4 linked regions of the Homo sapiens genome follow. The protein of the gene in region 4 interacts with the protein of the main gene of each other region in a biochemical or structural test. Each region holds a gene or a part of one and is shown on either strand. Other genes may lie near its edges. The genes, in order: ASPG, NDRG1, MAPKAP1 and SGK1.

What was found.
Region 1: the proteins of SGK1 (region 4) and ASPG form a complex in vitro, tested with the Homo sapiens proteins (one study listed by BioGRID).
Region 2: of the proteins of SGK1 (region 4) and NDRG1, one has a biochemical effect on the other in vitro, tested with the Homo sapiens proteins (one study listed by BioGRID).
Region 3: the proteins of SGK1 (region 4) and MAPKAP1 form a complex in vitro, tested with the Homo sapiens proteins (one study listed by BioGRID).

What each region holds. Positions count from the first base shown.
Region 1 is NC_000014.9:104,102,697-104,109,716, reverse strand, and holds part of ASPG (60 kDa lysophospholipase), read right to left. Parts: intron 6,155-7,020; coding exon 6,042-6,154; intron 5,414-6,041; coding exon 5,231-5,413; intron 5,096-5,230; coding exon 4,982-5,095; intron 4,390-4,981; coding exon 4,267-4,389; intron 2,919-4,266; coding exon 2,823-2,918; intron 2,536-2,822; coding exon 2,372-2,535; intron 1,320-2,371; coding exon of another isoform or gene 1,223-1,319; intron 1,016-1,222; coding exon of another isoform or gene 875-1,015; intron 489-874; coding exon 402-488; intron 1-401. UniProt on the Homo sapiens protein: Exhibits lysophospholipase, transacylase, PAF acetylhydrolase and asparaginase activities.
Region 2 is NC_000008.11:133,287,234-133,294,253, forward strand, and holds part of NDRG1 (protein NDRG1), read right to left. Parts: intron 1-7,020. UniProt on the Homo sapiens protein: Stress-responsive protein involved in hormone responses, cell growth, and differentiation. Acts as a tumor suppressor in many cell types. Necessary but not sufficient for p53/TP53-mediated caspase activation and apoptosis.
Region 3 is NC_000009.12:125,704,209-125,711,960, reverse strand, and holds the start of MAPKAP1 (target of rapamycin complex 2 subunit MAPKAP1), read left to right. Parts: upstream 1-4,752; 5' UTR 4,753-4,990; intron 4,991-7,752. UniProt on the Homo sapiens protein: Component of the mechanistic target of rapamycin complex 2 (mTORC2), which transduces signals from growth factors to pathways involved in proliferation, cytoskeletal organization, lipogenesis and anabolic output.
Region 4 is NC_000006.12:134,315,098-134,322,697, forward strand, and holds the start of SGK1 (serine/threonine-protein kinase Sgk1), read right to left. Parts: upstream 3,016-7,600; 5' UTR 2,364-3,015; coding exon 2,295-2,363; intron 1-2,294. UniProt on the Homo sapiens protein: Serine/threonine-protein kinase which is involved in the regulation of a wide variety of ion channels, membrane transporters, cellular enzymes, transcription factors, neuronal excitability, cell growth, proliferation, survival, migration and apoptosis.

The sequences.
Region 1 (7,020 bases), on a different chromosome or scaffold from region 4:
CACCTGCCCCAACCTCCCCAAATGCAGCCCCAGCCACCCCCCAGTCCACACCCCAGCCCCTCTCACACCCGACAACCAATTCCCATACCCCTCCTCAAGCCCACCACACACACACACATGCACCCACACACATGCATACACACATGCACACATGTGCACACAGAGACACCCTTGCTGGACTGTTCGCTCAGCTGAGAACAACTCCTTCCCCTGCCCCATGACATGGTCCAGGGTAGACACCTCTTCCCATCAGCCAGGTTGGTGCACACTGAGGTCAGCGGGCCTCGCCTCTGAAAGCCCCCACACCCTGACTCACTTGTCCCTCCCAGCAGGTCTGGCTTCGCTTCCCCAAGCTGTGTCCCCCACATCCCTGGAAGAGCAGGTGCTCTAGCTGCACTCACCTGCACAGCTCCGTCCCTGCTTCCTCCAGCTCCTGGGTGGACAGGGAGGCCCCGGCTTCCCGCAGCAACCCAATGACACCCGGATGCCTGTGTGAGAATGAGCATGCTGACCTTCTGCCCTGGCCAGCCCAGCCCCGCTGCACCTCACTCAGGAGCCAGCAGAGCTCATGTCCTGTGCACAGGGACGGGGACCGGCCGGCCCAAGACCCCACAGCCCTAGCCTCAGACAAGGGCCCATCCCCCCATCCTCTGCCTAGGCCCATGTGACATCATCCCGGGATCCCACCACCTCCATTTGTCCAGTACTCCTTCTTAGGGCAGCTGAGGTCTGCAAGGGGTGGGGTCAACTCTGTGGCAGCCCCGCACCCAGCACCCAGGGGAGGGCATTAGTTGGTGCTAGCAGAATAGCTCCTCCCAGGGCAGTCTCCCCAACCCATTCCAAGGGGACAGCCCATTTCAGAGGACAGCCTTACATGAGCTGACCGGCCCCACTGCACACCCAAACGCTGATCACACCCCGTGGTGACCTCCTCAGCCAGGCGCAGGGGACACTGAATCAATCCGGCCGACTGCCCTTGGGTAGGAGTGGGGGCAGGGCACCCGGACAGTGGAGTCTGTGGGGGTGGGGTCGGGGCTCTAGCAAGGAGGAGCAGAGGCACAAAGGCCCGAGGCCGGAGGCCACACAGCCCATTGTACAGGGTGACCTAAAGACTGTGCCATAATCGCTGGCCGTGCCCCCACCCCTGCAAAGCACCACAGATCCCCCCATCACCCCATTTAGGGAGCCTGGGAATAGGTATGAGGCAGTGGCCTCCCCATACCCCACTCAGGCACAGCAGGGCCAGGCAGGCGGCCTCAGGGAGCCTGGCAGCGGAGCGAGGCTGGGAGACCGGTTGGGGGCGTGCTGTGAGCCTGGTCCTGTGAGTCAGGAGGAGACGAGGGGGCGGGACTGTGTGAGCTCGTCTCCGCGCCACCCACCCACACCCAAGGACGCCCAGTCTAGAAGCTCCAGTCCGGATCACCCCAGCCCTGCTCGGGGGGACCCTCACAGCCCCGCCCCCTCCTGTCCACCACCCTGTTCTCTCCTATTCTTTTGAGCACCCTGTCAATGATCACAGGAGGCTGGAAAGAACCTTCTACCCCAGTCACCCACTTCACAAAAGGTGCCACACCCCACCCCAGGGCTCACCGCTTCACCGCTGGGGAGGGGAACCCACAACTGAACACGTCAGGGTCACATGACCCCAGGCTCAGACACCCCGGCCTTCTCTCCATGGGACTCCTGAGCACTCCCTCCCCGAAAAGAACCCAGGGTCCTGCAGGCCAAGTCCTCCCACCCACAGGGAGGAATCCCCAGGGGCCCTGGGATCTCTGAGCAGCCCATGGGTCCGGGCAGCGGCACCAGCAGACAGGTCGTTGGCCTTCCCAGGCTGGGGCAATAAAGAGTAGGAAGGGGAGACGGGACGCAGATCCCACCAGTGCTGGCCCCGCCCCCCACGCAGGGGCACAGGCACACACTCCGTCTCTGCTGCTGCTCTGGACTTTGGGAAGAGACACCAGCCAGGGCTTGCTTGGTGGGGCAGGGGACCCCCACACGCACAGGCTGGGCCTGTCCTCCAGGGCCCGAGTTGCCTGTCACAGCCCCAGATCTGCTGCCACGTAGCCTGCTTTTTATTGACCGCGTCTGGCTGCTGGGCCAGGACCTTCTGCCCCACCTCCACCCCAGCCCCCCATACCCACAGGTGCACAGAGATGCACCGTGTCCTCCCAGCTTTGTCCACAACATTTTTGTTTTCTAGGAACTCTGGGCCGGGGTCTTACTGGGCCCCGGGCTGCGGGGGCAGCCTTTAGGAAGCAGGTGTCCTCCACCTCTCCCAGCCCAGCCCCGGGAGGCTGTTTGAGTGCAGGAGCCCACAGCCTCTCTGCGCCCACCTGTCCAAGGCAGCTCTGTGCAGCCCTAGCTCCATTACCTGCCCCGCACGGCCAGCAGCAGCGGGCTGAAGCCATCCGTGTCCCGGGTGTTCACGTCCACACCTCTCTGCAGCAGCATGGTGACTGCCTCTGTGTGGCCTCCCCGGGCGGCCGCGTGCAGTGGGGTTTGGCCGTTAAAGTCCACCAGGCCCAGGTCACTGCCCTGGAGTAACACAAGGACATGCGACCCCTGAGGGAGACCCAGGCGGGGCCAGGTAGGCCATGGGGAGGGTGGGGTCCCTCTGAGGGTAGGGCCCAGCACAGCCCCTGCGCCCACCCTCAAAGCCTCAGTGAGACCTGACAAGCTGGCAGGACAGTCCTGCTGCCCAGTCTGGCTGACAAGGGCTTAGTGTGGTCAGTGGGTGGATGAAAGGCCGTCCTGCCTACAGGGTTCAGAGCCCCCAGGCCAGGCGTGGCTGGGGCTGGGCCCCCAGGGTGGGGGAGGCTCACCAGCTCCACAAGCGCCTGCAGCGCCTCCACGTCACCGGCGTGGGCAGCAGCACAGGCCAGGCTGGGCACCAGGGCATTCCGCAGGGCATCTGCCTCCTAGGTGGGGAAGGCGGCACCCTGGGACCCACGCCTCCCTTTGGCATCTGGTGGAACTGGCAGTCCCCGGTGCTGTATGACCCCTGCCAGCCCCCACACAAGGGCCCGCAGATCCCAGGGCGTGGGTGAGAAGGAACCTGAGCTGCCACATCGGAAGGCCTGGGGTTGAGCCTCACCACCCCACCCCATCCAGGCCCACCTAGGACCCCTTCCCCTGGAGCTAAGGCCAGGCCACGAGACCACCATCCAGCCCTGTCCCCAACGGGTGTGTGGCCAGTACCTGCTACCCACCCTCCCAGACTCCCCCGTCTGCTCCCACCGCCGTCGGGACGGAATGGTCACCCACATAAGGAGAGCGTGGGAAGCAGAGCCAGACCCCTCCCCTGGAAGGAAGGCCCTGTTCCCACGGCTGCACCTTCCCAGAAGAGCCACCTGCCCCCAGCACCGGGCACCAGGAGCTCCCCAAGACGCCAAAAGGCCGCGGTCCTGGCAGAGGCCCCACAGGGGCCACCACACCCAGCGGTCCTGGCAGAGGCCCCACAGGTGCCACCACACCCAGCGGGTACAACGTGGCCTGGTGACAAGGCTGCTGCCTCTGGCCTGCCTCCCTACAGCATTCAGGCCCTATGCAGCCACCCTAATAACAGGCCATGCACGCCAGTCCTTTCCATCTGCCCATCACCCGCCCCAGCAAGTGGCAGTTCCAGCACATGGCTCACAAGACAGGTCCATCCCTGTAGGGGGAAACCGAGGCACTGAGGCCGGGGCAGGACCCCACACAGTGGGGAGCAAGGCTGTCTGGCCTGCCAGGCCCCATGTCAGGCCTGGATGTTTGGCCCAGCAGCCAAGGGGGCATGTTGCGGGGTCCAGGGAGGCCCCATCCCCCTGCAGACCCCAGGCCTCGAAAGCCCCCCTTCCTAGGTCTGGGCACCTCAGTTGTGCAGGGGACGTGCTCAAAGGCTGGCCCTCACCTCCGGGTTCCTCACCTGGAACCCCTGGTGCTCAGAGCCTGGGAGAGCCCAGAGCAAGCACCGCCCCCACTCACCCGCCCTTCTTCTGGACAGGCAGCTCCCGAGGCAGCCCCGCACTAAGGCAGCGCCGCCAGTCAGAAGGCCTCCCTGCTGTGTGCCCACCGCCTGGCCCTTCCTGCCTCCTGCCTTATAGACCCTGCAAACCTTCCTTGCTGCAGACCCCAAACCCTCCTCCTGGGCCCCAGAACCCGGGTGTGCCTAACTGTTTGGGCTCGAGTGATGGCTACAGGGGCTCGTGCCTGCCTGGTGCATCCCAGGGTGACCAAGAGGGTGCACAGTCCCCAGCTGCCACTCAGGCCCGTGTCCCACGCCATTACCTGGCTGCCGCTCAGACTGAGGAGCCAGGAGACCCCACCGCCCAGCGTGTTGCCCTGCAGTGAGGGCCGGCGCTCTTCCACCGAGGGTGGCGTCATCTCCCCCCGAAGGTCCTTGGTCAGCAGCTGGTGGAGAGAACAGAGGTGAAGTGGCTCTGCCAGGGCTGGATGGGCAGCCCAGGACAGCCTGGAGGGTCGGGCTACCCGGGCACAGTCAGGGGTTGCCCTTGGCCTGAGCCTCGGCCGTGTGTGCTTCATCCCTCGGGCCAGAGCGGGCTGGGTCCCCTCCCAAGGCCAGCCCCACTCCCTGGCCCTACCAGCTCAGGGTCTCCAGGGGCCCCAAAAGCCTCCGTCCAGCCCCAGAGGCTGGCAACCCAAGGGTCTGGGGCCAGCTGTGTCTGAACCCCACCCTCGAGGAAGAGTGGAGAGCAGGAGAGGATTTCCTGGCGACAGTTAGGGGAGCCTCAGGTCTCCATGCAGTCTGAGAAGGCACAAGGACAGGCGGAGCCTGGGCTGGGAGTCCAGTGAGGGCTGTGGGGAGCCTGGGCCCAGAGCTGCCCTTCCCCACTATAGGGAGCCACATCCCTCCCCTTCCCAAACAGGACACACCCTGGACCGGCCCCCAGGCTCTTCCGGCATCGCCCCAGACATGCCCCTGGGAGCCAACTGACATGCTTGTGCACACCGAGGGTTGCCCACAGCCCGAGAGCGCCCGCACCTCCTTCCTGACATCCAGGCTCAGCCCTGGCTGGCCCAGCACATACGATAGCTTGGCCAGGGCGGCCTCCGATGTCATGTCGAAGCCTGAGATGACGCCGGCTCCCGCCATGGCCTGTGAGGAGGGGGCGTGTGGGCAGGAAGGGCGACTCACCACGGCCCCCAGCCCATGAGGGGTGGGTCAGAGCCCACCTCTGCCAGGCCCTCAGGCTGTCCCCTTCCCCGCTAGGCCCTGATCTCCCGGCACTACCATGCCAGCTGCATAGTCTGTGGTCACAGCCCCCTGGAGGCAGTGGGTACAGTTGACGATGACCAGGCCGCGCTCGGTGGCCACCCGCAGCTCCTGCAGCAGGTCGGGCTTGGTGGGTCCGTTCCCTGAACCGAAGGTCTCCATGACCACGCCCTTCAGGGGAGGCTGCAAGAAGGCCCGAACCTGTGGGGCGGTGGGGTGGGGGCTGGATGGTGAGGGTCTCTGCCCTCAGCACCACTGAGACTCGCCCCATGCCCTCCCAAGGAGAGGGACCCCAAGCCAGGGGCAGCTGGTGCCTGCTCTGCTCCCGGGACAGTGGGGCTCCTGGCAGACGTGCATGGCTGCTGGCACCTGGAGGGGGCTGCTCCCCCCACATTCTCCCAAAGGGTCGCCCTGTCTGTAGGGACGAAGGCTTTGTGTGGCAGAACGCCGTGGAAACACTTCAGAGAGGTGGGAGAGGAGCCAAGAAGGCCATCAGAGGCCCCAGAGCAAACACCCTTGTCCAGCACAGCAGGGGCGGCTCCCAGCCAGCTGGAATCTGCGGGAGGACGCTGCCTCTAGAAAAGCATGGAGGACCCCGTTCTGGCTGTGAGCCGCGCCCCAACCCTGCCCACTCCCCGAGAGGCTGGAAAGCACCACGACGGAGGACAGGGGACAGGGCCTGGGGCTGGTGGGGCCACACTGCAGACATCTCAGGTCCACGCGGGGTCTGCACTGGCTGGTGAGGGCCCCAGGGAGCCTGAGGGCCGTGGGAGCTGCAGAGGGCTGGGGCTCAGGGCTGCAGGGGCAGGATGGCCGGGGCGGTCCCTACCAGGGCGGCAGGGATCCCAGGGTAGAGGCGCAGCAGGCCCACGTCCTGCTCCATGCTGCTGTGCACCACCAGCCCAGCCTTCCCGTCCACCTTCCGCACCAGCTCCCTGTTGACTGAGGACAGGGAAGGGCCTGTGTGGTGCCTTCAGGCCTCCTGCCAGCCGAGACCCCAGCCCAGTGCCTGGCCCTCTGCACAGGCCGCCTCCTCCCTTGTTTTCAGAGCCCTGAGCCTTCGCGGCTCAGCCCCCTCGCCCTGCCTCCTCTCCCGCAGGCAAATCCTCCCGGGCTTCCGCGCAGTCCGGCCTGTGCCAGGCTCCGCAGCGTGCACGGGGCTGTGGGAGGAGGCACTCGTTGGCCAGCGAGAGACCGATGGCCGAGCAATGGGCAACACAGTCTCAAGGGTGAAGCCCAGGGAAACTCCGCTGGCCAGGCGAGGGGCAGGAGGGTCCTGCAGAGATGGAGGCCCGGCTGTGTCTTGCAGGCCGCATGGGGGCGTCAGGCGAGCGCAGAGGCGAGGAGGGCAGGCATGCCCAGCTGGGGAGCCACCAGCAGTCACTGCGCTGGGTTACAGGCATGGGGCAGCATCGTCGAACCAGCCAGCCTCCTCTGCCCCTTGCCAGGCACCCACTGTGCCCACTGCCCACCGGGTCAGTGGTTGAATGAGCGAACAAATGGACTTTCGGACCCCTCACCTCTGGGGAGAGAAGGCCTCCATCCAGTTCACCCCAAAATCCTAATGTGTGCCCATCACCCCCTCCCCACACCCAGGGTGGGTGATGGTGGAGGTGCAGGCCCCAGGTGAAGTGGGGAGGGATGGCTATTTGGGGTCAGTGCCCCTTGAACCCGTCCATGCAGAGGGGCTCCCCAGAGGACATGCTTGTCCTCGAGCTGAAGGCCGCCACTCTGGCAGCAATTGAGCCCCCAGGGTTCTGCCGACTTTCCCGCTCCATGTGGGTGGGGGTGGGAGGCTGATGCCACAG
Region 2 (7,020 bases), on a different chromosome or scaffold from region 4:
GCCTGAACCCCACTCCACCCCAGGACTTGGCTCCCTACAATCTGCCCACTCCCAGCCCCCACGCCACCAGGCTGGCCCTCAAAGAACATCTGAGTTCACGGAAGCAGGATGGAAAACTCAGGATTTATTCAGAGGTTTCTACCCACTAGGTTCTATGTGCCCAACACAGAGCTCAGAACAAAAATAACACCAGCTATGGTGATGAGACTGGCTATGGGACTCATCTGGGGATCATGAGCAAACAGACCCAGTTCCTGCCCCCACGGAGCTCACAGTCCCGAGGGGACAGGCACTCCCTTGGGCTCACTCATCAGGCTGCATCTGGGCTGTGTCCACTGTCTGTCTGTCCCCCTGGAGGGCAGAGCAGATGCTGTCTGGACAGCATCCAGGACAGCGTCTGTGCCTCCTGGACAGAGATCCTCAGCTCAGCACTGCTGACATTTGGGCCCCACAAGCAGCCTCTGCCTTAGGGGCTGCCCTGAGCACGGGAGGAGGCTCAGCAGCATCCCTGGCCTCTGCCCACCACATGCCCACAGCATACACCCCACGCTGCGACCAGCAAAAGAATCTGCAAACGTTGCCAAATGTCCCCTGGTGCGACATCCACCCTCCTCTGGAATAGCTGATTTTAGTAATTCCTAGTAGGTAACAGTATCCAGAAAATGTCAGTTGGATGCATTCTTATTTAATCTAGTGCATGCGTGCACACACGCACACACACACACACACACTCTCAAATGCACTCACACATTCCCTCACACTGACACACTTGCAAACTTTCATTCTCACACTCAGACATTCTCACATTCACACACTTATACTCACACATACATACATTCTCACAAACACACTCATTCTCACATACTCACACTTTCTTACACACTGATACATTCTCACTTTCATGGACTCTCACATCCACAGTCATTTATACTCACACGCACTCACACGCACACGTGCACTCCCCACCACCTTCATTCACGGAGGAGGGGGCTGGGCCCAAGCGGCTGCCAGCTGTCCTGAGCTCACCCTGCTGGCTGCAGCACAGGGGCTGGAGTGGAGTCAGATCCAATGTTCACACTCTTCCTTCACTCCACTCTCCCCAAAACACTTTTTCTGGGATTCAAAGTCACCACCTGAGAATCATGGAAGGACCCAGTTCTGGCAGAAGCTGCTGTCTTCTGGTGTCTGTGATCTCCTTCTGCCAGCAGGAAATGGCAGGTGATACGTGACCTGGTTTGGCGGCTCGAGCTGGTGCTTCCACTCCTGCTCCCTCCTCCCGGGCACCTGAGGCCCTCACGGCTTAGCAAGTGTGGCAGGTGGAGCCTGTCCCTGGGCTTGAGGTCCTTGCTGGACTCCAGCTCCTGCCCTCCCTCTGCCTCATGCAAAGTCCTAATCACAGAATGTTGGGACCCACTAGAAAGCATCAAAGAGGTCCTCCAGCAGGTGGGGTGGCAAGGCAGGGCCACACACAGCATGGCGGGGGAACCAGGGCTGACTCCTAGCCCACCAGCCCCACCTTTGGAGTGGCTTGGGACTGACAAACCGTGTCTCCATCTCCAAGGCCATCTTTGCTCCCCAAGAAGCACAGAAGAAACCCCTCCAGCAGGTCTCCTTCAGCTAAAACCCAGCTTAGCACCAAAAACAGGGCTCCAGGTCACAGCACCAGCTGCCAGCCTGTATCTTCACTTCTTTTCCCATCCACCTGCCTGGGAGGAATTCCGAGAAGACCAATGCCAGAGAAGCGAAAGGTAGCCAGGAGCTGGGGGAAGGCTTGCAGGCCATGGTGTCACCATTTATTAGCTCTGTGATCCTGCATAATTTATCGAATCTCTTTTTAAAAATGTATTATTCATCTTGTTTTTTAGAGAGACAGGGTCTTGCTATGTTGCCCAGACTGGTCTCAAACTCCTGGGTTCAAGTGATCCTCCTACTCCGGCCTCCTGAGTAGCTGAGATTACAGGCATATGCCACCATGCCTGGCTATCTAACCTCTTTGCCTCAGTTTGCTTGTCTGTCAATGGGCATGCTAACTCCTGCTCCCAATGATCAGCAGTGGGGCTTAAATTCAAGAATGGCATGGAGAATTAAGCAAACAGTTGCTTAATTCATCAACATACTTTCCTTTCAGGGTTGCCTTGGAGATGCCAGGACATCTGTGAGGATGTGGCCTGGGTTTCAGTCCTAGAGTCCCAGCGAGGAGAGGGACACATGGAAAATGCTCAGCAAATGCCACCAAGGTTTCTGATTATCAGGCCCAGTGCGTCACCACTGGGGCCCTTCTCTCCACCAGCACTGTCTGTCAATGAGTAATGAGGGCCCAAGAGGGGCTACACAAATACCCTTCCAGTCCAGCAGACCCAGGAGAGTCAGAGGAGAGCTGGATCACAGGTGCCAGGCAAAGCCAAGGCCAGGATCTGCCCGAGGAAGAAAAGAACGTGACCCGTGACCCTGGGACCTGGGAGGGCAGTGGGCAGAGGCATCTTCAGTAATCCGACACCACTTGAGAACTGTTCAACAGCCCCTGGGGGACTGAGGGGGACACACAGAGCCTGTGATTCCCAAAAACCTCAGTGGGGCAGCAGGAACGCTGGCCTAGGAATCAGGGCATGGGGACCCTGCCACTTTCCTATTCCATGACTCTGAGCAAGTCACTTCCTCTCTGGGCCTTGGTTTCTCCATCTGTAAAGTAGGCACAGTGTACGTCTATGGAGATCACGCTGTCCACAACAAACTTACAGGCAAATGGAAACCCAGGCAGGAAGGTGCTTCACCAAGACAAAAGGGCCACAGGGTCTTACCAAGGCCCTGCCAGGCTCAGCTCTGGCCAGATTAGCCCCGCACCTTGGACCAAGGCCCCCACTTCTGCCAGCCTCAGACTCCTGTCTGTTAAGACTAGTGCCTTGCTCCAGCTCTGCCACCCACCTGCACACCCTCTTGAGCAAACTCTCCTGGGCCCCGCCACAACTCCCACAGGGTGAGGCTGAAGGGGTATCCAGCAGAGAAACATCCATGATCTGTTCTAGAAGTTCCAGGTTCCGCCCACCAGGAAGAGCAGCCACAGGAAGGCAACAATGTAACCCTACACAGACACACCACAAAAACAGCACCAGGAACAGTATCTGTGGCACTAACTGGACTCTAAACCCGGTACTTCCTTTAAGCCTCACAGAAACCCTAGGAGGGAGGTGCCAGCATGTCACCATTTAACAGACGGGGAAACTGAGGCATCAAGAGGTTAAGATGTGTGCCCCAAGTCAGCAAGCATCAAGCTGGCTGCTTTAAGGTTAAAGCAACCTTAAAGGGAATGTTGACAATGATCTCACATTGCCCTAAATATATCCACAGTCCTCACCACCACCCGTGGCCCAGATACAACGTTGTAAGGTGGGCTGCACGTGACCATGAGGCTTTCAGCGTGTGGAGGTCAGCTGGGACAGTCACATGCCTCTCCTCCACCCTGCAGTCACCACTGAGCCATCATGAGCAGGCTTGAGCTTTTGGCAAAACCAGCATCTTGAACTTTTCTCCCTTCACAACACCCAGAAGGTTCTCTGTTTTCAGCTCCCCCATAGTACCTTCCTAAGACGGCCAACTCAATGCTTTGGAAAAGCATTCACTCAGCACACTGTTTCACTTGCTCCTCAAGGAGGTTGCCCCGGGAGAGGCTGGGTATTATACCCAGTTCACAAATGGGTAACCTGAGGCTCAAAAACAAACACAAAGGCCCACTTGACTTCCAAAGGCCACATGTCTAGATTCCTCCCTACTGAGGGAAAGGTGAAAAACTCACTGGTTTGTTGTGGGTGCAGGTGTGGCACTCATTCCCTCGGGGGAGGGCGGACAACAGTCCCCTGGAGGCCTTCAGTGAAGCAGATAAAGGGAGAGCAGGCGGGAATTGCTGACAAGGGTAGCATCGATTGTCACCAACAGCAACTGGCCCAGATTCCACCCTCTGTAACATGCCTGGTTTTAAGGCCACATGAAAGCCAGTGTTCTCTCCAGCACATTGTGCTCTTTATAGAACAGATTTTTAAAAGGAGGGAAAAAATCAACATGTGCTGTGGCTGTTTGCTGTAGCAACTTCCCCAGAAAATTGCCGAGAACAGCACCATTTCTGCCTGAACCTCAAGGAAAACCACCTTGAGATAGGCCCTGGATAGCCCTGCCTTACTGTGGATACAATCCTTTGTCATTTCTTTGCCCAAAGAGATTTTGAAGTCAAGCTACAAAGCAGTTCATGGGCTCTCTTGGTGTTTTCTGGCCCTTCTGAAACTCAAGGCCCTGGGGAGGGTGAGGAAGTTGGCAGTCTTCACGAACTGTCTTTCTTAACTAATCAACTCAGCAAACAATATGGGTGGATTCACTGGACCTTCAAGAAAGTTCCCTAGTTTAGAGGTTAGGGAACTGTATCAGAGCAATCAGAATCAAGGAAACAGTACAAATGTCAGAGAACAAAACCACAGTAGGAACTCCTCGAGGGCCCCTGTACTTTGCAGTGGAGCCTGAAACCCAGGAGGCATCAGTGATGTTTGATATTCAAGGAATGAAAAAGGGATCACTAAGAAGGTGAACCCCACTGTCTCCCTCTCAAACAAGCCAAAGCCGCATTCACTCCCTGGGTGTGGGTCCAGAGGGGCTGGAGCTGAAACTGAACTGCTGTGTGTTCAACTTGAGCACAGCACCAGGGAGGTCAGCAAGAGTGTCCCAAACACAACAGCAGGAAGAGGGAGGTGTCAGGAATCTCGTCAGGGCCCACCTCTTTTCTGCAATACAACCGAGATCTTCCTGGAGATTCTCAGTGGAGTTTTGGCAGCACGAGTAATTTGTTTGGCAGACAGAAGACGACCGTCTGAGGGGACGAGGTGAATAACTGGAAGTCCAAAGGAGGACACTGGTCTCCTTAGAGGATTATTTTGTGAAATTGCAAGACAGGCATGAGCTGCGCTGGATGGTCTGAGATAATTTGTGGAAATCACACAAACGGAGCCAGTGTTAGCAGAGGACGAGGAAATGGCTTCCTCATACAGAACCCTTTGTCCCGAGATGGGATGCTAGCCACGCTAACAGGATCCTTCCCCAGAATGGTCTTGCAGTTTCCACCCTCCGGAATGGGCCTCCGATCTTGTCTATGCAAGATGGTCCAAGTTACTTCCTTAATCAGTGGAGATGTCCTTTCCACCACCACTAACACAACACCTACTAAGGACAGGCTCTCAGGTTTCATGGGAGACATGGACAGGTCCCAGGAAGGACCCAACCCAGCCTCCCCTCCAGCAGAGGACAGCCAAGGAGGCCTTTCTGGAGAAAGGAGGAGAGTTCCATGATTAAAAAGGAGGAAGGAGAGATGGTAAGCATTCCCAGCTGAGAGAGGCCATAGACCCACCTCTTAAATGGCCCTCTCACATCCATATTTGAAGAGGGTTACTTGGAATCTTCTTAGGTTCCGTGGGGGTGGGGCAGAGGGTGAAGGCAGGAGAACAAGGTGGAGACCTGGGCCCCCACCCACCTCTCTTCAAACAGAACTCTATGCAGATTTAAAATGTATAGCTGCAGAAAGTCTCCCCACAGATTTAAAGAAAGGAAAGATTAAACTGCTGGGGAGGGCACTCAAGGCCCCCAGACTGTTAAGGAGCCTCACTTTCTACCAGCTCAGTTGCAAGAAAACCCGCTGGACTCAAAAGGTCAGAGATGGAGCCCAGGCAGGTAGGGCATAGGCAGGTCTGCAAACAATGTTAGGTGGGAAAGTCAAAGATCTGGGTCAAAGAGACCTGCTTATGGCCCCGATTGTGTAATCCATTCCCATTCTGTAGTGCTGGGGCTTACGCCCCACCCGAGGGAGCCCAGGTTTCTTTTCACATGGCCCCCACCCCGAGAACACGGCTCCAGGTTGGCACCTACTCATGGCCCTCTACCTCTGCAGCCGCCTTCCTGTGGGGCCTCAGTGTCCCCAGCCCTTCTGCCTACCTGCCTGGGCTAAGTTCTCAGCCAAGACCGCTATCTAGCCTGCCTCTATCTCCAAGTTGAAAGATAAAAAGCAAGTGGACACGCGGTACTTCCATCACACAGCCATCAAGGGAGGCAGGAACAACAGCCTGGGGTGGATCCAGGAAACAAGCTCCTTCTCAAAAGGTGGGCCCAGAGGGTGTGGGTGGCCTCCAAGCGCAATGTTGGAGGGTGGAAAGGGCTCAGGAGGCTCACCTTGGGCAGAACCCCACTCACTGGACTCTGGACAGAAGAGTCACCAGCCTGAGCCTCAATTTTCTGACCTGAGAGGTGGAAAGAATGTCTTCTACCTCAGTTAGCTGATGTGATGCATTGAACCTCCAAGGCACTATAGCAAACAAGAGCTATTTACTGAGCACTCACTAATTCCCTGGCACTGTGGACACAGGGTGGCCTGAAGGTACAGCGGCATGTATGACTACACCTTCCTTCTTCTCTCCCCTGTCATTCCAGAGCAGAGGTTCTCAACTCTGTCTGCCTGCAGGATACCCCATTCCCAACCCAGCCAAAGGAGCTTTGAAACAACAGCATATCCCCTGATGGAGAGAGAATCGCAGGAGACCGGGCCTGGAAATGTGCATTTCAGACAAGATTTTCATGACACTATTATGCAACCTACATAAGCTTAGCAAAAAGCAATACCTAGGTCAAGCATTTGCAGGCACTTTCACAGCCTTGGGTAGGTTTAGGACAAAGGGTCCCAGACTCTGCCTGCCAAGAAGATGCCTTGAGAATGTCTTCTGCGGGTGCTACTGACGGCAAACACCTACACGCTGTTTTCCACATGCTCAGTGCTGTTCTCAGGTTACACAGATTAATATTTACACATTCTGATGGCATCATGTCTGTTACTCTCATTTTACAGAAAAGCAAACTGAGGCATGGAGCTCCTGACTGCCTTTTCATTTGAGCCTGATTTCTTCAGGCGCCCCAACATGTTGTCATGGAAAAAAAACAAAGGCTCTGAAGTCCAACTGTCCGGGTTCAAAGTCTGGCTCTCCCACCTGAGCCATATGG
Region 3 (7,752 bases), on a different chromosome or scaffold from region 4:
CTGCCCCCCAAAATGAATTGGAGTTTGCTGAGTGGAAAGGCAAACAACAATTGAGGCTTGAGGGGCTGTGAGGAAACTGAATGTGTGAAGGGACCTGATCCTTACTGCCCATCTTGGCGTGCCGGGCCAGAAGAGCTGGCATTTATGCAACACCTCCTGTATACCAGGCACTGTTCTAGTTACTCTCTCTGCAGTACCTCATGGAATTCTCACAACAACCTAGATGAGAAAACAGACACAAGAAAGGCAAGTAACTTGTTGAAGGCCACACAGGTAGTAGGTGTTTTTTTTGTTTTTGTTTTTGTTTTGTTTTATTTTGATTTTTTTGAGACAGAGTCTCGCTCTGTCGCCCAGGTTGGAGTGCAGTGGCATGATCTCGGCTCACTGCAAGCTCCGCCTCCCAGGTTCACACCATTCTCCTGCCTCAGCCTCCCCAGTAGCTGGGACTATAGGTGCCTGCCACCTCGTCTGGCTAATTTTTTGTATTTTTAGTAGAGACGGAGTTTAACCGTGTTAGCCAGGATGGTCTCAATCTCCTGACCTCATGATCCGCCCGCCTTGGCCTCCCAAAGCGTTGGGATTAGAGGCAGGAGCCACCACGCCCGGCCCGGTAGTAGGTGTTTTTGAACTTCTGCCCACTGACCCTCTCTAGTCCCGGGAACCAGAAGAAAAAGAACCTCCACCCCCTAACATGGCTTCCTTTCCAAGCTGGAGATGAAGGCTGTGAAGCCTGATTGTCATAGGTATGCCCAGGTACCTGTCCCGCTGCCCTGATGTCTATGGGAGTCCCCTAGCCAGCCCCTGGCCCAGCACCATCAGTGTGCTGTAAAAATGTTATTTTTGTGGCCGGGTGTGGTGGCTCACGCCTGTAATCCTTGCACTTTGGGAGGCAGAGGCAGGCAGACCACAAGGTCAAGAGATCGAGACCAACCTGGCCAACATGGTGAAACCCCGTCTCTACTAAAAATAGAAAAATTTGCCGGGTATGGTGGCGGGCACCTGTAGTCCCAGCTATTCGGGAGGCTGGGACAGGAGAATGGCTTGAACCTGGGAGGCGGAGGTTACAGTGAGCTGAGATCGTGCCACTGCACTCTAGCCTGGCGACAGAGCGAGACTTCATCTCAAAAAAAAAAAAAAAATTTGTATGTGTGTTAGCTCTCATGGTCCTACCACTGTACACCCCAGGTCAGGAGACAGGTCAATGTATGCTTTAATGACACTTCCACCAATACAACTCCTGCTTCTTGGAGGCTCATGCCATCCAATTAGTTTCTCCTCTCTCCTCCTCATCTACCTCCCCAGTGCTGTTCCTCAGTTGCAGATGCCATGGGGAGCACGTCTGGTTTCCTTTTCACCCCATGTCTGTCCACCATCTTGGGATGGACGTTCACAAGGATCTCAGTTCCTTGACTATCTCATCTTCAGTGATTTTCCCCCCATTCCACTTTAGCTGGGACCCCCTCTCACATGGCTCCTCCTCTGAGGTTATTTGTTGAAACATCCATCTGTGACAATAACCTCCATCCTTCTGCTTTCCTTCATCAGTGACTTCCATTACATCTATTTGAGACCTTTAGGCCAGTGATACCTGTTTTTCTGGAATTCTCTTGCTTCCCTATCCAGCATACTTTCTATGGCTCATTGTTTTAAGCACTCTTAAAAGCTGATATGACCCCATCACACCTGTCTGGCAAAATCCTTCCTTGGATCAATCCAACTTCTCATTCTTTGGGTGTGTGTATCGTGACTGCTCCAACTAGCTATAGAATAATCACACTAGCCATCATATTAGTATCACCATACATTTAGTCTCCATTCTCAACTGGGCCCTCAATACTGTCCTTGAAATCCTACCATATATCACTGCATGCCAACTTACCACAGTAACTACAGTATTTCAAACCCATAGTCGAACTTGACTACAAGGCTTCTTAAGGGTAGGGTCCCCGTCTGGCTTTTTCACCACTGAATCTCAATAGGCACTCAATAAGTATTGCTTACTGACTGAGGTATACTCATACTGGTAGGCATTAGTAAATAATAGTCACATGCCAGGCTCTGTTATATGTAAGCTACATGTATTAGGTCATTCTATCCTTGCAACAAACTAATGAGGTTATGTAGGACTTCTGTCATTCCCATTTTCCAGGTAAAGATAAGAATATTTAGAGAAGCAACTTGGAGAGATGAAGTCACAAAACTTGTAAGTGGCAGAGTGAGTATTCACTTTTTATTTTTCTAATTTTTTTTTCAAGACAGGGCATTGCTCTTTCATCCAGGCTGGAGTGCAGTGGCATGATCACGTCTCACTGCAGCCTTGACCTCCCAGGGCTCAAGCAATCATCCCATCTCAGCCTCCCAAGCAGCTAGGACTACAGGCATTCACCACCACACCTGGCTAAAAAAAATATATGTGTATATGTGTGTGTATATATATATTTTTTTATTTTTTATTTTTTTGAGACAGACTCTCACTCTGTTGTCCAGGCTGGGCTGCAGTGGTGTGCTCACTGCAACCTTCACCTCCCAGGTTCAAGCGATTCTCCTGCCTCAGCCTCTCAAGTAGCTGGGACTACAGGTGTGTGCCACATGCCTGGCTAATTTTTCGTATTTTTTTTTTTTTTTTTTTAGTAGAGACAGGGTTTCACCATGTTAAGACAGGATGGTCTTGATCTTCTGACCTTGTGATCCGCACCCCTTGGCCTCCCAAAGTGCTGGGATTACAGGCATGAGCCACCGTGCCCGGCCTATATAGAGATAAATTTTTTAAGGTAGTGATGGGGTCTCACCATGTTGCCTAGGCTGGTCTTGAACTCCTGGGCTCAGATGATCTTCCTGCCTTGGTCTCTCAAAGTGCTAGGAAATATTTACTCTTTAGAATCTATAACTGCTTAGCAGTTTTAGATAGGTCGAGTTTTATGTGTCTAGGAGACAGTCAGGCAGCTGTGCTTCAGATTGGAACTCGAGAGAGAGAGAGAGGAAAATGGAGAGTAAGATTTAGGAAGGAACAGATAACCTGGTGACCTCAGAAAATCAAATATCCAAACTTGTTCACACCTGCTGCTTTGTTAGAGTGCCTCTGACAGGTCCCTGATGGAACTGTGGTGGTGTGTGTGCAAGAGTGTGTCTGGGTGCTGAGGTGCACTATTCCCCCAGTATAGATATGTGGTAAGATACCAATTACATAAAGTAATGGGATGTAGTAAGAGATCAATCACATATGGTCATGCGTGGAATGAGGATGTTTTGGTCAATGACAGAGTGCATATGATGGTGGTCCCCTAAGATTATAACATGGTCTTTTAATTGTACCTTTTCTGCATTTAGAGATGTTTAGATACACAAATACCATTGTGTTAGAATTGCCTACAGTATATGGTACAGTAACATGCTGTACAGGTGTGCAGCCTAGAAGCAATAGGCTAATACCAAACAGCCTAGGTGTGTAGTAGGCTCTGACATTGTGTAAGTACAGTCTATGATGTTTACACAACCACAAAATCAGCTAACGATGCATTTCTTGTGTCCTCATCATTAAGTGATGGATGACCATATTTGAAATACATGGGTAGACCCACCGTGTTTTTTGTTTTTTTGTTTTGAGACAGAGTCTCTGTCACCCAGGCTGGAGTGCAGTGGCCTGATCTTGGGTCACTGCAACCTCTGCCTCCCGGGTTCAAGCCATTCTCCTGCCTCAGTCTCCTGAGTAGCTGGGACTACAGGTGCACACCACCACGCCAGACTAATTTTTGTATTTTTAGTAGAGACAGGGTTTCACCATGTTGGCCAGGCTGGTCTCGAACTCCTGATCTCAAGTGATCTGCCCTCCTCGGCCTCCCAAAGTGCTGGGATTACAGGTGTGAGCCACCGTGCCTGGCCCCATGGCATATTTATTAATAAGTTTAAAATTGGGCAGGGGTCCCTCAGGGCTGAAATTCAACCTTGAGTTTTTTCTTTTGCTAAGGTGCGTTTTTGAGAGACTTCCCCAAGCATCTTTCAGGTGGGAGAACCACTCTCACTGCACTCCCTGAATCCTTTTTCCCCCTTCATCGTGGCTTTCTCTACTGATTTCCTCCGTGAGAGAGGAAGGGAGCAGCATGAGACACACTGAACTTCTGCCCTGTGCCAGTCCTCCTACATCTCCTGGAAACCTCCCAGCAGGGCTTGAGGAAGATTATTGTCACCTCCATATTACAGATATTATAATAAGAGAAATAACTAACATTGACTGCATGTTTACTATGTGTCAGGCACTATGCTGGGTGTTTTTCAAGCATCATCCCATTCGATTCCCACAGCAATATACTCTAAAGTTGAAACTATTGCCCTGGATGGGAAAACCCGAGGCTCAGAGAGAAGTGTCACATCCTAGGACACACAGCAAGTTATAAGAGCTGGCATTTGAACCCAGGTCTTTCTCAGAGAGGCTGAGCTGCCTCATCACTCATTTCTGGACGAACTAAGGGCTTTTCTCCGTGGAAATGGGGAGAAAGAAGATTCGATGGAGAAGCCTAACACTGATTCCTGCTCAAGGCAAGTCCAGGCACTGGCGCATCTTGCCAGAACTCAGTCTCCGACCCAGGCCTTTCCCTGCACTGGAGAAGCGGCGCGCATGCGCCCGGCCTCCCTCCCGGCCCCGCCCCGCGGGAAGCTACCGCTCCTTGCTTTCAGCTCTGGGGCTTGCGCACTACGTCCCCAGCCAGAGGCTCCTTCCCGGTCGGGGACTTCCGGAACGCCGGGGTGTGGTTCCGGGTCGTGTGCGGCTCGGGGTAATAGGGCTGCTGCTCGGCCGGCCGGCGGCGGCGAGCAGCAGGGGCATGAGGGCTAACCCGGGAAGCGGCAGCTGAGCGGGCCGGGAGGAGCGCCGGTCCCCGTGGATCCCGAGAGTGCAGAGCTCGGGGCAGGGGCCGGGAGGCGTGGGGGAGCCGGGCCCTCCCCTCAGGAACGTGTCCCGGGGCCGACCCGGCCCGTAGTGTGGAAGCAGCTTCAGGTAAAGGTTGCCCCAGCCGCCAGCTCCCCGCCCGTCCGTCAGCCCACCAGCTTGCCCACCTGGCGGCCCTCTCACCCCTCCAGTTTCAGCGCTGCCCGGCGGGCCGCCTGCCGGGCCCTTGTTCAGGTGGCCCGGGCGCGTTCGTTTCCTGGCCATTTCCAGAACTGGAGGCTGTCAGGAGTCTGAGGCGGGTGTGTGGTTTAGGGGAAAAGAAGCCAGCTGACCTGGTAGTGTGGGGGTGGGGGGTGTAGTTGACTCCGGCAGTTTCTGGGCCTGCACTTGGCAATATCTAGGTGCCCTGGTCTTCATAATGTGAAAATCAAGGTTTTCAAGCATTGACTGTGTGGTCCTTGTTTCCTTGCGTCCCTTCTCCCCCTCCCCCTTAAAGAGGTTAACAGCCTTACAGACTTTTTTCTAGCTACAGTGCTGCTGGAACTTTGATTCATTCTTTGTTTATGGGAGTGGCAAGGAGTCATTTAGATTTGTTTAAGGCTGGGAAAAAGAGATTGTAGCGTAAACAAGATTATGACTTTAACCAGAGACCCCCAAATTGACTCAGAAATTGGTTAAAACTTCCTTTTGAATGAATGAAAGTCACTTTGGAAGCCCACCACAGTACCTGGCACTGTACAAAGCACCATGTTGTTATAAACCCAAATCGGCAAAGTTCAAAACTTTCCCAGGTGTGAAGAGTCAAATGGAGACCCATTGGTTTAAAAAAAGCAGCGTTCTCATTCTCTGACAAGCAGGAGAGGTGGATCCGTAATGTTAAAACCCACTTGAGCAGAAGCCTAGATATGGGTTTTATTCCTTATATTTTATGAGCCCACACAAGGTACCTAGTAAACACGGAAAGAGTTCTTGATGAAGCAATAATTGTTTTCATGTTTTTCAGTTTACACACCTGCGGGATTTGGGGCATGCTGGTAGCCCTTTCCCATTCATCTGTGTGCTCATGCCTACCTTCAACTACTGTGTGTCCCAGACTGCACTTACACCCCCTTACATCTCCTAATCTGGCTCCTGGTTACCTTTCCAGTTATGCTTGAAAAGGTCTCCTTCTTTAATTACCCCATCCTGATCCATTACTCTGAATAAGTAGGATCTCTAATCATTTTTGTTCTTTCCTATTCCATTGATTTTTGTAGAACATTCTCCCTACCTTGCCTAGGTTTCCCCTTTTCTCTTTCAGTCTATTGAGACGCTTCCCACGGCTCAGCTGAGTTGGCCTCACCCAACCAATTCAGGACAACCCCACCTGGAAATGATTTTTCCTCTAGAATTCTATAAGCGCTCATTTTTATCTACAATTATTTAACTTAGCAAATGTTTACTGAATATGGATATGTATATATATGCCAGGTACCATGCTAGGCAATTAGAGATAAATATAAGATTCAGTCTTTGCTGCCAGGGAGCTCAATTTAGTGAAAGAGAGATAAGGGAAATGAATAATTCTAACACCGTGATAAGTACATTGTGTGAGAGTTCTTGTGACAGTGGTAGGTGCGGGAGGGGAATGGGTTATTCACCTTTGAGGGATGGGATGTGGCCAGGTAATGCTTCATAATTTGAGGTAAACTAAACTTTGAGTATTTGGGTATTATATAGGGGTTTCTATTGTTTAATCATTTTAACCTCAATTTACAGATTAGGAAGACCCATAATAAATTACACAGCTGGTAGGAGACAGAGCCAGGATTCAAACCCAGGTCTGTCTGATGCCTAAATCTGTGCTTTTTCCATTACATGTCTTGCCTTTTTCTCACATCATCTCCCTCTTTTTATGCAAGTACATATTGAAACCAAAAGTTATATAGGACAAAACATATGAATGTTAAAATGAATGGTACAGAAATCTTTTAAATGTAAAGACTGTGCTCTTCCAAGGCAAGGAGATGGCAGGTAGGTTAGTTAGCTCAGCTTTGAATATGAGCAGAGAAGACAGTCTATAGAAAATAGGCATGGACTCTGGATTCAATTCCTGGTCCCTGTTCTTACAGGATATGTGACCTTCGACACATAACTCCAAGCATCACTTTCTTCAACTAGGGGTTGGGTTAGGGAATAATATTGACCACATGGAGTGTTGTGAATATTTATTGAACTAATGGGGATAAAGGGCCTGGTACGTGGTAAAGTCCCCCGAAATAAATAGCTATAAGATACAAAGGTATAATGCTTGAGGCATGGTTTTAGACTGGTGAGTGAGTTTACAGCCTGAGTCATGCAAGTCATTGCTTCTTTTAGCAGGGTACAAGGACGTAAAGTTGGAGGGGCGGTAGGGGTCAGAGTCAGTGAGGGCTTGAGTACCAGGCAAGGGAGGTAAATTCCAGTTTCTGCTAATAACTTTTCCAGTTAATAAATACTTCGAGGATCTACGATTCATTTCAGCAGTGCCAAGCAAAATGTTAGACCTTGGGGATACAAAAAGAAGTAAAATTGGGTCCCTATCCTGAGGTTATTGACATTCTAGTAGAGGAGATGTCTGTGTGTGTGCAGGTGAACCATAATAAAGTACTGTGGGTTCTAAGGTAGAAGTCCCCAGGAGGTACCATAGAACACTGAGAAGGAAACACTGATGATGGTAGGTAATGAGTACTTACTCTGCTGGTGTGATGTTAAATGCTTTATCTCATTTTTTTCTCGTGTGAGAAGGTGTTATTAGCATCCTGATTTTACAGATGAGGAAACTGGGGCACAGAGACCTTGAATAACTTCCTTGAGTTTATGCTGCTGGTAGAGCTGTAAGATAGAGGGGA
Region 4 (7,600 bases):
ATAGATGTATTTACATATTGTTTAACTAAAAACAAACAAACAAAAAAAGCAAAGTCATGTACAAGCAGAAATAAACATTTAGAATACAGAATTTGTGGAATAAACCAAAGTAGACAAAAATCAAAGAATTTATCCCTGGGGCATTCAATGACTTGATACAAGGTCACCTTCTACTTAGTTAACTGTCCTTGAGGAGTAAGGAGAGCGCAGGGGCAGGAGAGATGTCTGATCCTGTCTCCAGCAACTGATAGACCCAGGTTAGAAGTTAGATGAAGCTGCCTGCCAGTTATCTTGGTAGAAACTTCTTTCTGCATGTACTCAGATAAGACATCAGTACCCTGGGTGGTTCTCTGCAAAATTCAAGGTCTGCAGAGTCACCAACTGAAGTCTATTGGTAAACTTGCTTTTAAGCAAAACAAAACCAAATGGCAAATTAGTATTTCTATTAGTACATTTTGATAACAAAGAAAATAAAAGACAATTTAAAATTTATGTAACTTAAATCTACATTGCTTAAGAACATCTGACTGAGGAGTTTTAGAATATCCCCAATACCATGAAATAAATACAGTAATTAAAAGGCAATAGAGTTTAAATACTGGATAATGGGCTATGGCATTTTTAAAATTAGCAAAACATTTGTTTATTATTGAAAATTAGGGCTGGGCCTGGTGGTGGACATCTGTAATCCCAGCAATTTGGGAGGCTGAGGCAGGAGGACCACTTGAGCCCAAAAGGTCAAGACCACCCTGGGCAATATAGCAAGACCCCGTCTCTAAAAAAAAGAAAAAGAAAGAAAGAAAATTAATTTTCATAAAGGGCTCTTCCCTTGGAAAGAAATATTTTAGCTACAGAGAAAAACTAAGAAGCCTTGTGGAGCTCTGTGAAGTTGCACTGACTTGCTTTCACTTAGCTTGCAGCTCACTAGTGAGATTTCACATGGTACTCCCACTCCAAGAGCAGGGGCCAGGACAGGTTGGTTTCATTTTGGTTTGAATGCATATGCTTTGGCCCACAGACTTGGAGAAAGATTTTGCTTTACTGATGAGAACTCAGTCAAGGGTGCTTGGGAGCCTTCGCTGGCCCTCTAGCTGGGCCTGACATGTTGCCTGCATTTCTAGCCTTGCCTTCCCAGCTTGCCCATTTGGTGCAGGGAGATAGTCCAGCCCACCCTGAAATTCACTGTGTTCTGCGGATGAGTTAACTGAAGGGCTGTGTTTCAGGAGTGGCACAGAAAGGACCTGAATGAAAGGAAGGAGGAATGAATGGAGAGAACCATTTTGGTGGAATTGCCCTAGGGTATTAAATAGGATGGGGCAACTGGGGACTGGAGGATGTTCCTTCTCTTACGTTGCTTAGGAAACACTGTCCTTAAGAGTGTCAGTGTCATTCCTTTAACAATCATTCATTTCTTACCTCCCGCTTGTGTATAAATTTGCAGATTTACACAGACCACCAGTGTGGCCATCCCAGTGAACTGAGTTTATTGTGAAATATACATGCAAAAAAATCCTTTTTTCTCACCTACAACCAATGCAACATTATTCATACTTTGAGTTGAAGAATAAGGAGTTTAAGAAATAAATGCATACAGCAACATAACCCTGAATTATCACTCAAATACAGACCTCCCACTGCTCTCTCCCAAAAAAAAAAAAAAAAAAAAAAAAAAAAAGGCAGTTATTCTAAGCAAAAGCAAAAATTGAGGCAACTTAAAATAGACAATTTTAAATGCTGGATTCCATCATTTCTGTAAAAGGTCATTCTACTCCTTTGCTATTTATACCACAGATAGAGACACAGCAAATTATTGGCTGAATGGATTTGGGAAACCAGAAGCTGCTGCTTCTGACGAACGAAGATGATAATGCATCACTTGAGACTGAGTGGATGAAAGGTGTAGAAAAGTTGAACCCTTCAAAGATGAGAGGAAGCTGCTAAATTAGCCCCTGACTAAATTACTAGCCATAATTGTACTCAAGCCAGTTCTCTTTGCGACTGCCTTGTAATCTTTGTTGTGGCTTGAGAGAGAAAAATCCCCATTCCCAGCTCAAACCCGTTTAAGGCATCTCAGCCCAACCCCCTCCTCCCAATGCAACTCTTCATAGCCCCCTGCCCCTCCTCCAACAAATTCTAATCAAGTCAGGTATAGTTCTCAGCTTTACCACTGCCATCAGAAGCACGGCTTACATTAAGGGTTTAGCAACAAAACCTCAGGCTTACTTCAGGCAAACATTCAAAAGCATTTAAGAGAAGCACAGAAAACAAAAGAAATAAGCAAAACCTGTCCTTACCCGCTTCTTAAAAAATTGGAAGGCTGAGCATTTCTTGACTGGGAATCCATTCATGTCTTTGTTTACCATTTTCCACCGTGGGGAATTCACAGTTATAGATCCAGGTTGGCACCCGCCTGGTTAGTGCATATCTGTTTCCCCGGTTTACCTCCTGCAGACAGTTAATGAAGACTGAGCGGGATGGAGAATCTAGCGGGGCTCAGTTCTTCACTCGCGCATTCTGCAGCACCAGCTACTGCAGCAACCTCTCCCCACTTTCAGTTGCCACCGACAGCGGCTTTTCTCCTTCCATCATTGCTCCGAAACATATGCATCACCGCTGCAGGACCCTGGGGGCCGGACGGTGGGATACGGCCAATCTCCGGGGAGATGCTGTGGCTCTTACCGAGCGGGAGAAGGGTACGCCTCCCCGCCCCCAGCTACCTGGCTGCTCTTCCGCGGCCGGCGCGGGGAGCGAGTCGCTCTTCTCCAGGTGATGCGCTCCTGGAGGCGGCTTGAGAGAGGAGAGTTGTTTTTGATTGTGCAAGTTCCAGTGGGAGCTGTAGTTAAGCAGCTGAGAGAAGGAGTAAGAAAGAGCAGAAGCCAGAGGGAGGGAGGGAGAACAGCGCCAGAAAGGCAGAGGGAGCGAGAAGGCGAGGCTGGAAGAAGCAACGGTTCATGAATATCTGAGCAGCGGATGGAGAGAAGGCACAGCCGGCTCAGGGCACACTGAAGAGCAGTTGACTCCCCTTGGGAGGGTTACTTTAAATAGCTTCTTTTCTTTCTTTCTTTTTTTTTTTTTTTGGTTAGGACCATTTAAATCAGAGTTTCATATAAATTGCACACCGTTTTTATTTTATGCTCATTGACATTCTTTTGAATCCTGTTGCTGAATAAAAGCCTCTCAACGGAAATGTAATCACATTTAATCTCGACCTGTCCAAACGTGGAAGAAAATGAAATAAAGTGCAAGCGTAGGTATAACAATGGAAGATCTCTCACTATGTAGAAGCTCTTTTAGCCTCCCCTCCCCTACTTGTCATTATATAGTGGGCAATGGTGACGGTAATTGTGTCTTTTTCATTAAAACAGCTTATTAAAAAAAGAACACAATGAACATATACAAAGTACTTTATTACACACATACACACACACACGAGTTATTACCAAAAAGTACTACTGAATCCATTTAATGATGAGGAAGGTTTGATAAATAAAAGAGTAAAGCATTCTTCCTATTAGGTGAAAAATTTCCCAAAAAATCCTTACTCATGTTATCCTTTGCACACTGAGCTCCTTTTAAAAAAGCCATTTAATTGTATGTGGCTTATTTTTCCATTTTTATTCTTTAATGTTGATATTTTATGGGAATGATTTTAAAGATTAGTTGATAGTAAAGCAAGAAAGCAAAGAAAATAAACTTGGCATCTGACCTGGCAGAAAGCCACCAACATCGGTGTGTGGCTTTCTGCCATCACCTGACCTCACTGTGCCTTTCGGACACTGCCTCATCCATAAAATGGAGGCAGCCACTCATTCATTCATTCACTCATTCATTTATTTAGTCATTCATTATTTGCTATTTCATTCCATTAATAAATCTAACTCTGACAAGTGTCCTCAGGATGTGGAGCCTTTTCATAATCATCACAAGGGAATATAATTGATAAATAAGTGAAAGGCGCAATGCTAATTTGAAACTGATTATGACCTCATTATATATAACACACCTAACATTGTTAAAGTATTTACATGGAAGTCTCTGGTAAGAAGAGAAACATCAGGTTAAACTGGGAAAGAAATGCATGGGTTTCATTGAATTGGACTATAAATCTCTACAGTTGGGCCAGAGTTTTTGGGAATAAACATGAAATCCTGTTTGCTAAATGCCTTGAGGTTTCCAAAAAGAAAATGCAATACAACTAAATGATGGCATGATAACCAAGGGAAAACAACTATTCATTTTGGAGAGATATGTTAAGTTGTCCAAGATGCAAGTATATGTTATGTAATCTACAACATTGATAAGTTTTTGTGGTTCTTCTAAAGAGTTCATTTAAAATTATGGTAGTTCAAAGGGAATTATTTTGAGACGATGGAAGTGTTCTCTATCATGATGATGGTGGTGGTTACATAACTATGCATTTGTCAGAACTCATCAAATTTTATATAGGAAAAGGGAAACTTTTGCTGCATGTAAATTATACCTCAATGGACCTCATTTTAAAAAATGATGGTCATTCAAGTTCTTTCTTTTTCGTCCCATTGCCACTCCCCCAAAAGTGTTTTAACAGACATTTATTGAATTTGAGTAATATACAGGAGGGGACCTTTAAGCACTCTGCTAGGAAGGAGGTGCTGGGGCTTTGCTTAATCCCACATTGGCCTAGCATGCATACTGGTTGATATCATTTGGCTGTGTCCCCACCCAAATCTCGTCTTGAATTGTAGTTCCCACAGTGAGTGATTTCTCATGAGATCTGATGGTTTTATAAGGGGCTTTTCTCCCTTTTGCTCAGCACTTCCCCTTCCTGATGCCATGTGAAGAAGAATGTGTTTGCTTCCCCTTCTGCTCTGATTGTAAGTTTCCTGAGGCCTCCCCAGCCATGCTGAACTGTGAGTCAATTAAACCTCTTTCCTGTATAAATTACCCATCTCACTATGTCTTTATTAGCAGTGTGAGAACGGACTAATACCCTGGTTTCATGTAGGATGTATGTTCATTTGGGGTGCAGGCGGGTGGTTAATAGAGATTATGAGGGAGGAGAAGACAAGCTAAATGCTATCTTTTCCCTCACTCCATGCCACCTCTTGAAGATGCTGCCACTGTCACTTGGTCTATGCTAGATCCTATGGAAGGTCCAGTGCATGTAAGTGTCACTGGTTTTTGTCACCAAGGAACTCACAGCCTAGTAGAGAAATATACAGTGTGGTAAGAATACTATATACAGTAGTCCTCCCTTATCTGAGGTTTTACCTTCCACAGTTTCAGTTACCTAAGGTCAACAATGGTCTGAAAATCAGTGAGTACAATACGATACTTTTAGAGACACAGAGAGAGACCACAGTCACATCATTTTTATTATCGTACATTGTTAAAATTATTCTACTATTGTTGTTAATCTCTTACTGTGCTTGATTTATAAATTAAACTTTATTATAGGTATGTATGTACAGGAAAAAACATAATGTATATGGAGTTTGGTACTATCTGAAGTTTCACGCATCCATGGGGGGGGTCTTGGAATGTATCCCCCATGGATAAGAGTGTACTACTCTGTGTGTGTGTGTGTGTGTGTGTGTGTGTGTGTGTGTGTGGTGTGTATGCATCAACCCTGCCTTAATTTGGAGGGGGGAAGGGTGGGGCTGGATGGGTAAGAGAGGTCCAGGAAATTTACCTAAAGGGATGATGTTAGTGCATGGCCTTAAAGAATGAGTAGGTCAGTCAGATGAAGGAAGAGAAGTATAGGGCAGGGATTCTGACTATATCTGACAGCCAATTATTTTGGATTATCTTTTGATTGGTGCAATAATAGAGAAATGCATTAACTGCACTGTGTTGGTTATTCAGGAAAAGAAGGCATCTTTCATCTCACTCTGACCTCTATTTTCATAAGTAAAGCTGCCCTCAGGTAAGCCCAGAGTGACTACTGTTTACTAAATGTTTCCTTTGACAGGTCCACTGTTGATACCTATAAAGGAGCACAGGCTCCTGCTTATAATAATAAAAAAAAAAACTCTGGACTCATGCAACATCTTGTTTATAAATCAAACTTAATTTAATTAATTAACTCACTTCTTGTTCCCATAAAACACACTTATTTATTTTTGTAGCACCAGCACACAGCGGAGTGCCTGGGCCATGCTAGCACTCAACAAATGGTTTTCAAACGAATTAAATACAAAAGTAAGTATAGCTGACATCAGTGACCCTGGCACCAGACCATTTGCAGGAATCATTAAATACCTTTAAGATTCTTCAGTCATTAAGCTCTCTCCCATGATAGCCAATATGCTGAGCTCCAGTAAGAGCAAACGACCTCACTCCTCACCATTTCCTCTTTAAGCCTCAATGACACTGTAGCCCTGGGATGACACTTCTTTTTGATGGAAAATCCCAATGTTAAAAATAATCCCTTGGGCCAGGCACAGTGGCTCATGCCTATAATGCCAACAATTTGGGAGGCCGAGGTAGGAGGATAACTTGAGCCCAGGAGTTTGAGACCAGCCTGGCAACATAGCAAAGCCCCATTTCTACAAAAAGGAAAAAAAATAGGTGGTGTGGTGATGCATGCCTGTGGTCCAGCTGTTTAGGAGGCTTAGGTGGAAGGATTGCTTGACCCTGGGAAGTTGAGGCTGCAGTGAGACATGGTTGTTCCACTGCACTTTAGCCTGGGCAACAGAGCAAGACTCTCTCAAAATAAATAAATAAATAAACAAACAAACAAAAAGAATCCCTTGAACCTCTATTTGATTTTTTTGTGGTATACCTACTTTTCCTCCCAACAATATTGTTTAGGCTGTCACACAAAGAATAAAATAAAGTAGCTAGGTAGGACTAACTACCAATATGTACCTGCGGTGGAAAGACTGCTGTATTGATTTGGAACATCTTCTACCTCACTTCCATTCCCTAATTGTGCAACCTTCAACAAGTTCCCTCAACGCACTAAGCCTCAGTTTCTTCATCTGTAAAATAATAATAATAAAATGCTTCTTCACCTACCTCCTAAAGGAATTGTCAGTACCAAATTATATTTGAAAGGGTTTTGCAAAGTAATAAATAACTCTACATTTCTTTGTTTCACTAAAGCAAGAGGCATATGCCACTGTAATACTTTTTAGAAAGTCTATCTTCCCATAGATTAAAGTGTTTTTGTGTGATACATTTAGTTGTTGAATGGAATGTAATTTTTTTCGATAGCACCCCAGAATACACAAAAGATAACAAACAATAAAGTATCTGTTTAGTGACAAATGTCCCTAAGGAGAAAGGGATAAAAATACATCACCTCATGAGAAATGTTTTACATTCCTTTTTGGCCTGAGTGACTCGATCATATGCTTAAAACTCCAGCCACAGTGGTAGTGATGTATTTAATGAAGAATTAGGAAACCCTGCTGGGGATTATGGGTTTGTTTTTGTACATGCAAAAGACCCTTTTTAATTTTATTTTATTTGCTTTTTTGAGAAAGGGTCTCTCTCTGTCACCCAGGCTGGAATGCAGTGGTGTGATCATGACTCACTGCAGCCTCAACCTCCTGGGCTCAAGCGATCATTCCACCTCTGCCTCCCGAGTAGCTGAGATTACAGGTGCGTGTCACCA